Linked DNA regions of Homo sapiens: region 1 is linked to region 2. Evidence: fine-mapped expression QTL. A gene starts in region 2. The other region holds a variant in brackets. All regions are shown on one strand. Distances are between the middles of the regions. Region 1 overlaps MMS22L (MMS22 like, DNA repair protein). Region 2 holds the start of MMS22L (MMS22 like, DNA repair protein).

Evidence for each region. PIP is the estimated chance that this variant, and not a neighbour inherited with it, causes the effect. A credible set is the group of variants that fine-mapping cannot tell apart.
Region 1: its variant is the best candidate, but not a certain one, in a credible set for the expression of MMS22L in whole blood (INTERVAL, PIP 0.52).

What each region holds. Positions count from the first base shown.
Region 1 is chr6:97,143,565-97,148,950 of GRCh38, reverse strand. It overlaps MMS22L (MMS22 like, DNA repair protein), which reads left to right. Exons shown (of 25, transcript NM_001350599.2): 25 at 2,064-5,386. The coding sequence ends at 2,145. Among named protein-coding and RNA genes, the nearest start is that of MMS22L, 140 kb to the left of the region's middle. The variant A/TA (reference allele first, on the strand shown) is at 2,817.
Region 2 is chr6:97,280,803-97,286,188 of GRCh38, reverse strand. It overlaps MMS22L (MMS22 like, DNA repair protein), which reads left to right and starts at 2,973. Exons shown (of 25, transcript NM_001350599.2): 1 at 2,973-3,093; 2 at 3,636-3,875; 3 at 4,827-4,952. The coding sequence starts at 3,712. RefSeq lists enhancers at 2,697-2,756, 3,137-3,396.

The sequences.
Region 1 (5,386 bases), 140 kb after region 2:
ATATGGTAGCAAAGATTTTAAAATGGTATACCTATATAGGGCACTTACCGTGAGTGCAGCTTGCAGGACTAGTAGTTGCTCTGGGTGGGTCGGCGAGTGAGTGGTGATAAATGTGAAGGCCTAGGCCATTACTGTACACTATTGTAGTAGACATTATAAACATAATACATTTAGAGTACATTAGTTATTTCTAAAATTTTTAGTTTTTCAATAATACATTAACCTTAGCTTACTCTTTTTTACCTTTTAAACTTTTTCTTTTTTTAACTTTTTTACTCTTGTAAAAAAGCTTAACACACACATTGTATAGCTGTACAAAAATATTTTCTTTCTTTATATTCTTGAATAAGCTTTTTTCTATTTTTAAATTATTTTTTATTTTTAAACTATTTTGTAAAAAATGAAGACACACACGCATTAGCCTGAGCCTACACAGGGTCAGGATGATCAACATCACTGTCTTCCACCTCTACATCTTACTTCACTGGAAGGTCTTCAGGGTCAGTAACGCACATGGAGCTGTCGTCTCCTGCAATAAGGAAGCCTTCTTCTGGAATACCTCCTGAAGGACCTGCCTGAGTCTGTTTTACAGTTAACTTTTATTTTTATAAGTATAAAGAGGAGTACACTCTAAAATAACAATAAAAAGTAAAGTATAGTAAATACATAAACCAGTAACATTCTTTCTTATTATCAAGTATTATATACTATGTATAGTTGTGTGTGCTAGACTTTTATATGACTGACAGTACAATAGGTTTGTTTATACCTGCATCACCACAAACAACACGAGTAAGGCATTACACTAAGACATTACAATGGCTACAACATCACCAGGCATTAGGAATTTTTCAGTACCATTATAATCTTAATGGGATCCATCATTGACCAAAATGCAGCCCATCATTGACCAAAATGTTTTTAATGTAGTGCATGACTATAATCATATGCATGTGTGTCTGTTTATCTGTACAAATACACACTCTAATGAATATGCATATTCCAATTTTTAGACAAAAATTTTTTATTAAACAATATATGAGATCTTTCTTGAAGACATGACTATGTTGATTATAGCTTTAGCTAACTAATGGAATCCATTTTTTCAATGCCATTTCATATAAAAGGCAGGGGGTGCGGACTGGAGAGATCATCCTTGTAAAGCTTTTGTATGCCAGAATGGAACATCTCCTTTCTTCTGCATGGTGACTTGGCTAGCCTCCTGTGGTTTTCTAAGGAGAGAAGATTGAATCACTTCAAATTGTAGCTTGAAGAAATGGTGTTTATTGTCATGTCACAAAACAAGCTCATGCACAGACATGTCTCACATCTGGCTTCTCTGAGCAGTCTTCAAATTTGAGTGAAAAAACTAGAGAGGCTGTGTGTGAACCACCCTAATGCAGTATGTTGTTAAAACAAATATTCTGGCCTACTACCTTGTGTGGTTATGCAGGCCCATAAGAAGTTTGGTTCTAAAGATTCTGAACAGAACAGGTATTTAGACTAGTGAGATAACTACTAGGCACAATAAATCATCTAAAACACCTTCCAAATACAGGGAAGTACTAGAGAATGTAGGAGGAGAAACAATATTTTATTTTCAAACTTTGTTACTTATAAGAAGTTAAAAGAAGAAAATGGGATATATACTGAAATTGCTACACAGGTCTATTTTATGGTTACAGAATTTTTGTTTTAATACTTACGCTTGTGATACAAGTCTTCCCATTGTAATCATACCATCATTGTCCTTAAATAATATTCCATGAATGCATTTTATTACCCGTGAGCATTATAATATTTCGGAAGGTTAATGAACTTTTACATGTCATTTTTAGCACACATTTTATATATAAAAATCATACTTTAATACATCTTAACATCTAGGTTTACTCACAATAGATATAAAGCATTACTTTTTAAGAAGTGTTGTGCTAAGCCTGCTGGATGGATGGCTGAATAGATGGATGGATGGATGATGGGCAGACTTAATTTGTAAATACTGAAATGAAAAATAATGAAAATGTTAATATATTTGCTTTCTTTTCTTTTTTCTTAAACAGGGAAGCCTATAGCAAACTTTTGTCTCACCTTGGACAGATGGGACAAGATGAGATGCAGAGACTGGAAAATGATAATACTTAATATATTTTGTGATTCATCCTGTCTATTAATTATCAGTATCTAAAGCCACATTGTTCCACTCTAATTCCTACTTTTAATTAATTGTATAATGTTCTGTTTAAAATAATTTCTAGGATTTTTTTTCCTTTTATATCTGTAAGTAAAAAATGTATAAATAAGGAACTGAAGGTTAATTAGCAACTGTGTAATAGGATCCTTGGAACTTTTTACAAAACTGCATTCTACCTTGATGAAATTTTAGTTAAACTAAATTAAAGAAACATTTTCTGAGAGTGTTTTCTGTGTGTGAGTATTAAGCAGATACTTCATCCATAGACTTTTTGTTGTAGTATGACTTCCTGCCTCCCTGCCTTGTGACTGATTTGTCATGTTTATTTTTTATTTTTACAATAATAGTTATGTTTTAAAATGATACTTTTTCAAAGTACCTGGCTACCCTATACTGTGTTTTTGGTGGGGGAAAGGTGTTGGGAAATGTGACTGTGTATTTGTTTTTCTTTTTTATATGTGTGAGGCAAGTTAACAAAGAAAACCCTTACAAAGCACACTTAACTGTGTTAGGAATGAGACTGAATCTGGCTAAAGGATTATACAGCTGATATCCAAAAAGAAGTGTAAACATGCCAACAGGGTTTATATTTAGGTTCCAAGAGTTGCCAAATTTTTTTTTT[A/TA]TTCATCCTTTCTTTTGGAGTTGTCATTAAAAAAAAAATCATATCAGGAGGAGGAAATAAAGGAGACTTTAAGAGGAGAGTAAATAAAAATATTCTAGAAAAGTAACAATAGTAGTGGTCTGAGAAGTCAGCTGATCCATCTTCTTGCTCTTTAGCCAGAGCTTCTTATAACTTAGCATTTTATCCAAGAAACCTGTTTAGTTTCCTTTAACAACATTGTTTCTCAACTTTTGAACTCTTAACTCATCCAGATTGTTTTACCAGTTGGAGCTTGTCCTTGACTCCTTTTCCTATTGAGCATTATTTGGTTGAAAGAGCTCCAGTCCTAGTTTTGGGAACCCACCTGGGTCTCAAACTCAGCTTTGCTTTATGATCTTGAGCTAGTTACGTAACCTTTCTCAGTCTAGTTTCTTCATGGAGAAGAAAAGAAGAATCCCTTTACTATTTGACAGTGTTGTTGTGAGAATCAATGGGATAATGTACGTGAAAATATTTGGTGGCCCAAATTCTGTTGGGAAATGTACAGACACGATTAGTTTATTACTCGTGCACAATTAAGGCAAAGAACACCTCTCAATTTTATCTTTCTCTAATGATATGTCCCAGATGAATGATCCCACTTTCCAATGTTTTCTTACATCATGTTTTCTAACTTTGAAGTACTTTGTTTCCTTCTTGGGATTATAGTCTTTATCATGGTTCTACTCTTCCTTCAAGAAAACATTTCAACCCTTCTCTGGCTCAAGGAGTATCTTTAAAAATGAAATACTTTGCAATCAGTATTCTGTAGTTAATAGCGTTCTCTTAATTATAATCTGTGAAATCCAAAGGAGTGTCTGTTATTTTCATAACATATAAATGGTCCTTCTCTCAAATCAGCTTCATCAAAGGGAATAAATGAAAGCTTAAGGCTGTTTAATAGACTTCATAACACTGAATTTCTTTTCATCATGATAGTGACTTACTAAACAAATAATGTATGGCTTGGAAAGTTCCAGCAGTCACTAAGGAGTTTTATCTATTTAAGGTGATGCCTTTAAAGAGGTTATTTATGTGTATATGTGTTTTTGTGTGTGTGTGTGTGTGTGTGTGTGTGTGTGTGTGTGTGTGGGTTTTTTTTTTCCAAAGGAGATTGATAAAGATACCTTTGAGAATCTTGCTCCTTAGAGTATGAAAACGTTTAAAGGATAGGAAAAGCTGCTACTGAATCATGCTTTAGGACATATATCTATAGATACTAAGAATAACTAAAATTTGTACTTAAGAATGGTAACAACAAAGTGTGTAACAATATGTGTGTGTATTATATGTTTTGTATTTATGTATAAGTAACTTTTTTTAAAGCTTTTTTTTAAATTGAAAAAAGAAGAAAATTTATGGCTCAGTTCCTTTTTTTTAAAATCTTCACTGATCCTTCACTTATTACTACAATCTTGCCCTCTTTCATTCCCAGACTTGGAGTCCCTTATACCTGCTTCTTTAATAGCCACTTTCCCTAAATACCCTGTAATTTCTGAGGCTGCTGCTTCTACCAGTGTAATACAAGCCATTGTCTTTTGGTCAAATCTGAGTTTGTTCTCCTTTCTCATGTTCTTTGTCCTCTCTGTGACAATTGTATTTTCTTTTATCTTCCCATCATTTCCACAATGGTACTGCTCCTTCCTACATATACAGTTGACCCTTGAGCAACACAAGTTTGAACTGTGCAGGTCCACTTATATGTGGATCTAAAATACAGTATTTGTGGGATGCAAAATCTGAGTATATGGAGGACCAACTTTTTGTAGAGGCAGGTTCCTCAGGGTTAACTGCAGGACTTGAGTAAGTGCAGATTATGGTATGCACAGGGGATCCTGGAACCAGTCCCCAGACCAAAAATGACCACTGTATCTTGAGAGCACCTTCATGGTCTTCTTTCCTGTCCCCAGTCGTAAGATACGACCCTTCATCTGCTTTGTCTCAACATTCTGTTAGTGGTGAACTGATAACTCCAGCTTTTCTCTCTCTTTTTTTTTTTTTTTTTTTTTTTGTTGTTGTTGTTGTTGTTGTTTTGAGGCAGAGTCTTGCTCTGTCGCCCAGGCTGGAGTGCAGTGGCACGATCTCGGCTCACTGCAAGCTCTGCCTCCCGGGTTCACGCCATTCTCCTGCCTCAGCCTCCCAAGTAGCTGGGACTACAGGTGCCCGCCACCACGCCCGGCTAATTTTTTTTGTATTTTTAGTAGAGACGGGGTTTCACCATGTTGGGCTCGATCTCCTGACCTCATGATCCGCCCGCCTCGGCCTCCCAAAGTGCTGGGATTACAGGCGTGATGAGCCACCTAGTGCTAATTCATCTCTAAACCTCTGTAGTTGGAGTCTCCTGAAATCTCAGACTACCTCCTGCTTTCATTTTCTACCCAGGGAATACACTATTGTCCTAAGTTATTTAGCCTTGAAATGTCAGAGGCATTTTAGGTTCTTCATGTTTCTCCCACTTTCAGTTGATTACCATTACAGGATCTTAGGCTTCTTTTTATCTTTTTGCAGTGCCTTGCATCCACTGGTTGTTTGTTTTTTCTGTTGGGCACTAC
Region 2 (5,386 bases):
TCAATTTCTACAAAAGAAAGTTCTCTGGGATTAGGATTTTGATTGGCAGTCCTTTGAAGCCATAGATAAACTTCAGAAGAACTTTTAATAATATTGAGTCTTCCAATTTATGATTATGCTATCTCATTCTATTTACTTGAATATTCTTGAATTTTTTTCAGCAATATTTTGGAATCCTTGGCAAACAAAATCTGACGCATATTTTGTTAAATTTAAACCTTGTTTATGTCATTAAATGGTGTTGTTTTCTAAACTCTAATTTTCAAATTGTCTTTTCATGTCTATAAAATACAATTAATTTTTGTGTGTCACTGAACCCCGCCACCTTGCTGAACTCATAGTTTTTATATATATTTGTAGAGATTTTTTTAGGATTTTCTATATGAATAATTATGTCATCTGAAAATCAAGACAGTTTTACTTCTTCTTATTCAATCTATATGACATTTATTTCTTCATCTTCCTTATTGCATTGACTAGTTACCTCCAGTAAAATGTTGAGAGAAGTGGAAAAAGTGGACATCATTGCCTTTTTCTCAATCTTAGGAAAAGAACATACATTTTTATAACTAAGTATGATATTAATAGCAGGTTTGTCATAGATATCACATATAAGGTAGGGAGTTTTCTTCCATTCTTAGTTGGCAGAGAGTTTTTATCATGAATAGATGTTGAATTTATCAAGTGATCTTTCAGTGTCTATTGAGATGACAGTTTTTCTTTTTATAGACTTGATATAATGAACTGATTACTTGTAGAAATTTGAATAACCTTGCATTCCTAACATGAATCTAATTTTCTTGTCATATGTCATCCTTTTTGTTTGTTTGTTCTGAGGCGGAGTCTTGTTCTGGAGTACAGTGGCGCGATCTCGGCTCACTGCAACCTCCCCATGCCGGGTTCAAGCGATTCTCCTGCCTCAGCCTCCTGTGTAGCTGGGACTACAGGCACATGGCGCCATACCCGGCTAATTTTTGTATTTTTAGTAGAGACGAGGTTTCACCATGTTGGCCAGGCTGGTCTTGAACTCCTGACCTCAAGTGATCCACCCGCCTTGGTCTCCCAAAGTGCTGGGATTACAGGCGTGAGCCACTGCACCTTGCCATCATATGTCATCCTTTTTATGTACTGCTGGATTTTGCTTGCTAACATTTCTGCTTTTATGTTTGCATGTGATATTGTATTGTAATTGTCTTTTGTCAGGTTTCGATACCAGTGTGGTGCTAGCCTCATAAAACAAGCATCCAATCTCCTAATTTCTCTAAGAGTTAGTATAGAATTGGTATTACTCCTTCCTTAAATGTTTGGGAGAATTTAATAGTAAGGCCATTTGGCCTGGAGAGTGTTTGTTTGTTTTGTTGCTTTTGAGAAATGGTGTTGCTCTGTTGTCCAGGCTGGAGTACAATGGCACACTCACAGTTCACTGCAGCCTCGAACTCTCCAGCTCAAGTGATCCTCTCACCTCAGCCTCCCTAAGTAGTTGGGACTACAGATGAGCACCACCACGCCTGGCTAATATTTGTATTTTTTTTGTGGAGACAAGGGACAGGGTTTCACCATGTTGCCCAGGCTGGTCTGGAACTCCTGGTCTCAAGGGATCCACCTACTTCAGCCTCCCAAAGCCACTGTGCCTGCCCTGGCCTGAAGTTTTCTTGTAAGAAGTGGTGTGTGTGTGTGTGTGTGTGTGTGTGTGTGTGTGTGTGTGCAGAGAGAGAGGAGGGAGGCTTAACCAAAGATTCTGAGTACTACGATAAATACAGAGATACTCAAATTTTCTTCTTTTGTTGATTTTTGACAGTTTGCGTCTTTTAAGGAATTTGTCCATTTCACCTATGCTTATTGGCATAAAAATGTTCATAATGTTCTTTTAATATCCTTGTCCTTTTAATGACTAAATTTCATAGTGATGAAACCTTTTTAATTCCTGATACTGATAATTTGTTTATTTTCTTTATCAGTTTGGGTAGGGGGGTTATCAATTATATTGCTCTTTTAGAAAAACAACTTTTGCATGTATTTCCTTCCATTTATTTCATCCCATTTATTTCTACTATTTATCATTTCATTCATTTTGCTTGCTTTGGTTTCAATATGCTGGGGGTTTTTTCTAGTTACTTAAGACAAAAGTTTATTGAATTGAGTTCTTCTTTTTAATGTAAGCAGGTACTGTTACAAATTTTAGTGTTTTCATTTTAATTTAATTCAACGTATTTTCTAATTTTCCTGTGATTTTTCCTGATTCACAGGTTAGTTAGAAGTATGATTCTTAATTTCCAAATATTTAGAGTATTTCAAGTATCTACTTTATTTCTAGTTTAATGCCATTATGATCAGACTATACACTTTGTACGATTTAAATCTTTTTAAAGTTGATGACATTTGTTTTATGGCTCGGAATATGGTATCGCTTAGTGAATGTTTCATGTGCACTTGACAGGAGTGTGTATTCTGCTATTGTTGGGTTGGTCACCTATAAACGTCAATTAGGTCAAGTTGGTTAGTGCTTTCCAAGTTTTCCATATCCATACTAATTTTCTGTCTACTTGTTCCATCTGTTACAGAGAAAATTAATTGTTGCACTTGCCTGCCTCACAGTCCATGGACAAAAGGCATCTGCATTCTAACAAGAGTTGCTGGCCCCAGAGCGGGAAGAGGGGACGGCGCGACTGTGGGTGTGAACGAGGCACTCACTTCGCACTCACTGGAGTAAATATCTTCTCTTTGGTCCGGCCAGAGGATAAACCCATAGTCCTTAAGTCCTCTCCTCCGCCTCAGCAGCAGTTCTGTTTTTTTTTTTTTACCAGGCCCCGCCTTTCAGCCGAACGCACCAATTAAAGGTACAAAAAAAAAAGTTTCTCAGTACCTCGTCCCGGACTGACGGACTCTCGCGAGAATTCGTGGGGCTCCGACTGTTTCCGCGCAGATATCGCGAGGCGATTGGTAGCCGGGGGAGGGCTGCGCCGTGGCCCCGCCTTTCCGGAGCGCGGGCGCGCGGTGGCGGGAATTTCGCCTGTTTGCGGTTTAGACCCCAAAGATTCCTGTTGGTGGTCTGGGTCACAGGAGGCAGGTTTCGGGAGCTGGAAATGTGAGCGGGTACGACAGGCACCGCGGGTAACCGACGCCCCGGGTCCTTGCTGCAGCCGGGTACGCGGGATACCGGCACCCCGCCTTCTCCGCCCGAGTGCTGCCAGGCGTGGGCCTGGTGGGTCTCGCCTCCTCCTTGGAGGGTCGGGGTTGGCCCTAGGGGTTGCTTTCCTAATTTCCACCCCGAGCCGGGGAGGGAGCGTTCTCCACCCTGCTGCTGGGAAACGGGCGGAGAGTGGTTTAGAAACGTTGCGGAGGGCGCAGTTCTAGGCAAGCCCGGGACGCTATGTCCTGCAGACATTTCTTTGCTTTTCACCTTGTCCTGGGCTGCAGAGCCCGACTTAGTGGCCGGATTTCGAGGTCCCTGCCACAGCCAGTTGGTTGTGCATTTTGTCTTAAGTTCTGACAGCCTTGATGGACGGAGGGCGAGGGGGAATTGGGAATTTGGCCTCTGGGTTTGTTCGTTTGTTTTTCCTTCCTGCTGGCGGACGTCTTGAGAACTTTCTGAAGTAATCCCCACTCTCTCGGCCCCACCCCCCCCCCCCCAACAGGAATCTCTTCACACCTTCTCTTTGGAGCCCTTAATGATACGACGAACCCCAAGTGTTTCAGAACATGAAGTAAACAATGGAGAACTGTTCTGCTGCATCGACGTTCCTGACTGACAGCTTAGAGCTGGAGCTGGGGACGGAATGGTGCAAACCTCCTTACTTTTCTTGTGCTGTTGACAACAGAGGAGGAGGAAAACATTTTTCTGGAGAATCCTACCTCTGCAGCGGAGCCCTTAAGCGGTAGGTAAAACTCAGAGACATTTTCCCTCATCTGATTATTCACCAGTTTTTTAGGAATGTTAGTTATTTCAGCCCATTAAACTTTGGTGTTCACCAAGTCGTGTTTTATAAATCAGCTTAGTATATCATAAGGGTACAAATGATTATCAGTTCTGCTGGCTTCTTGGTAAGGGCATATCTAAAGTATTTGGGGTATTAGGGAAAACTTCCTTGGTAACTGATGTTCCCTTACTGTAGGGAGCTGGGCACTAATTTTTCTTCTACTTAAAATGAATTCCTAACTATCTGAGCCTTTTGCAGTAGTATTTCCTTCTAAAGAGTGTGATAATATTCTAGAGCTTTCCAGTAATATTTAAGAGAGACAAACATTTTTTATTGCCCCTGTTCCTTCTAATCCTACCTGCACATATAGAAGTGTATAGACTTATTTTGCCTTGGGCAGGTACATATATATTACAGTAAAACTGTTCTTGAAATATTTTGGTAATACCTGCTGAGGCAGTTTCAGTGAGGAAACTATTTTTGTTGACCTTATAGTTGTACCTTGTTAGAAATCTTAAATAGAATACTCAACTTCATTAGTTGGATACTATTCTCCAGACATGGCTCAGAATAACTGTTAGCAGTTTTAAAATTAAATGTCCCCTCAAAGGATGAAATTCTACAACTGAAGACTACTGGTGAAGACAGGCAGAAATATGTTTTTTAGAATTCTTGTTGATTTTTCCTCTTAAGTTACATTACACTTTAGTCGTACATTTTATCAATATAGAAGATTGACGTTTTAATACAGTCTAGCTATTGTAATCTTGAATGTGTAAAGTACCAAGGCATTTTCTGACTTTTTATACATGTCATGTATAATATGGATTCAAATAATGTAAAGAAAAGAGCCGTCGTATTATGGTACTTAGTATACTTTTTATGAGATTGAAACAATTTTCATTTCAGATTGATTTTGAATCTTGACCCTTTACCAACTAATTTTGAAGAAGATACCTTGGAAATATTTGGCATTCAGTGGGTTACTGAAACAGCATTAGTGAATTCATCTAGAGAACTCTTTCATTTATTCAGGTATTTCTTCGTTATAACTTTCTGTGAGTGTAGGTGTTGTTCACTTTTGTAAATTACGTTGTTGGGTGGCTTCTAATACTGATATTACAAAAGACCAGAGGAATTGTGCTGGTTGCTCACTTGATTATCTTACCAGTAACAATAATCAAGCAGCAATGCCTGATGAGTAATGGTTTTAATGAGTTGCGTTTTCAGAATCTTTATTCTTTGCATTTGACACATGTATTGACAAATATTTAAGGCTTTGAACTATAATTTTTAGAAGAAAATTAAAATATTTTTGTTGTGCAATAGCCATAGTCTTTCAGTGATCTTTAGAGTATGGTCTTAACAAATAAATTGTTTAGACTGTGTAATAGAAATATTAATTATTTGGACAACATTTAAAATTTTTTTAATGAAAAATTTTAAGCATACACAAAATAATAATATAA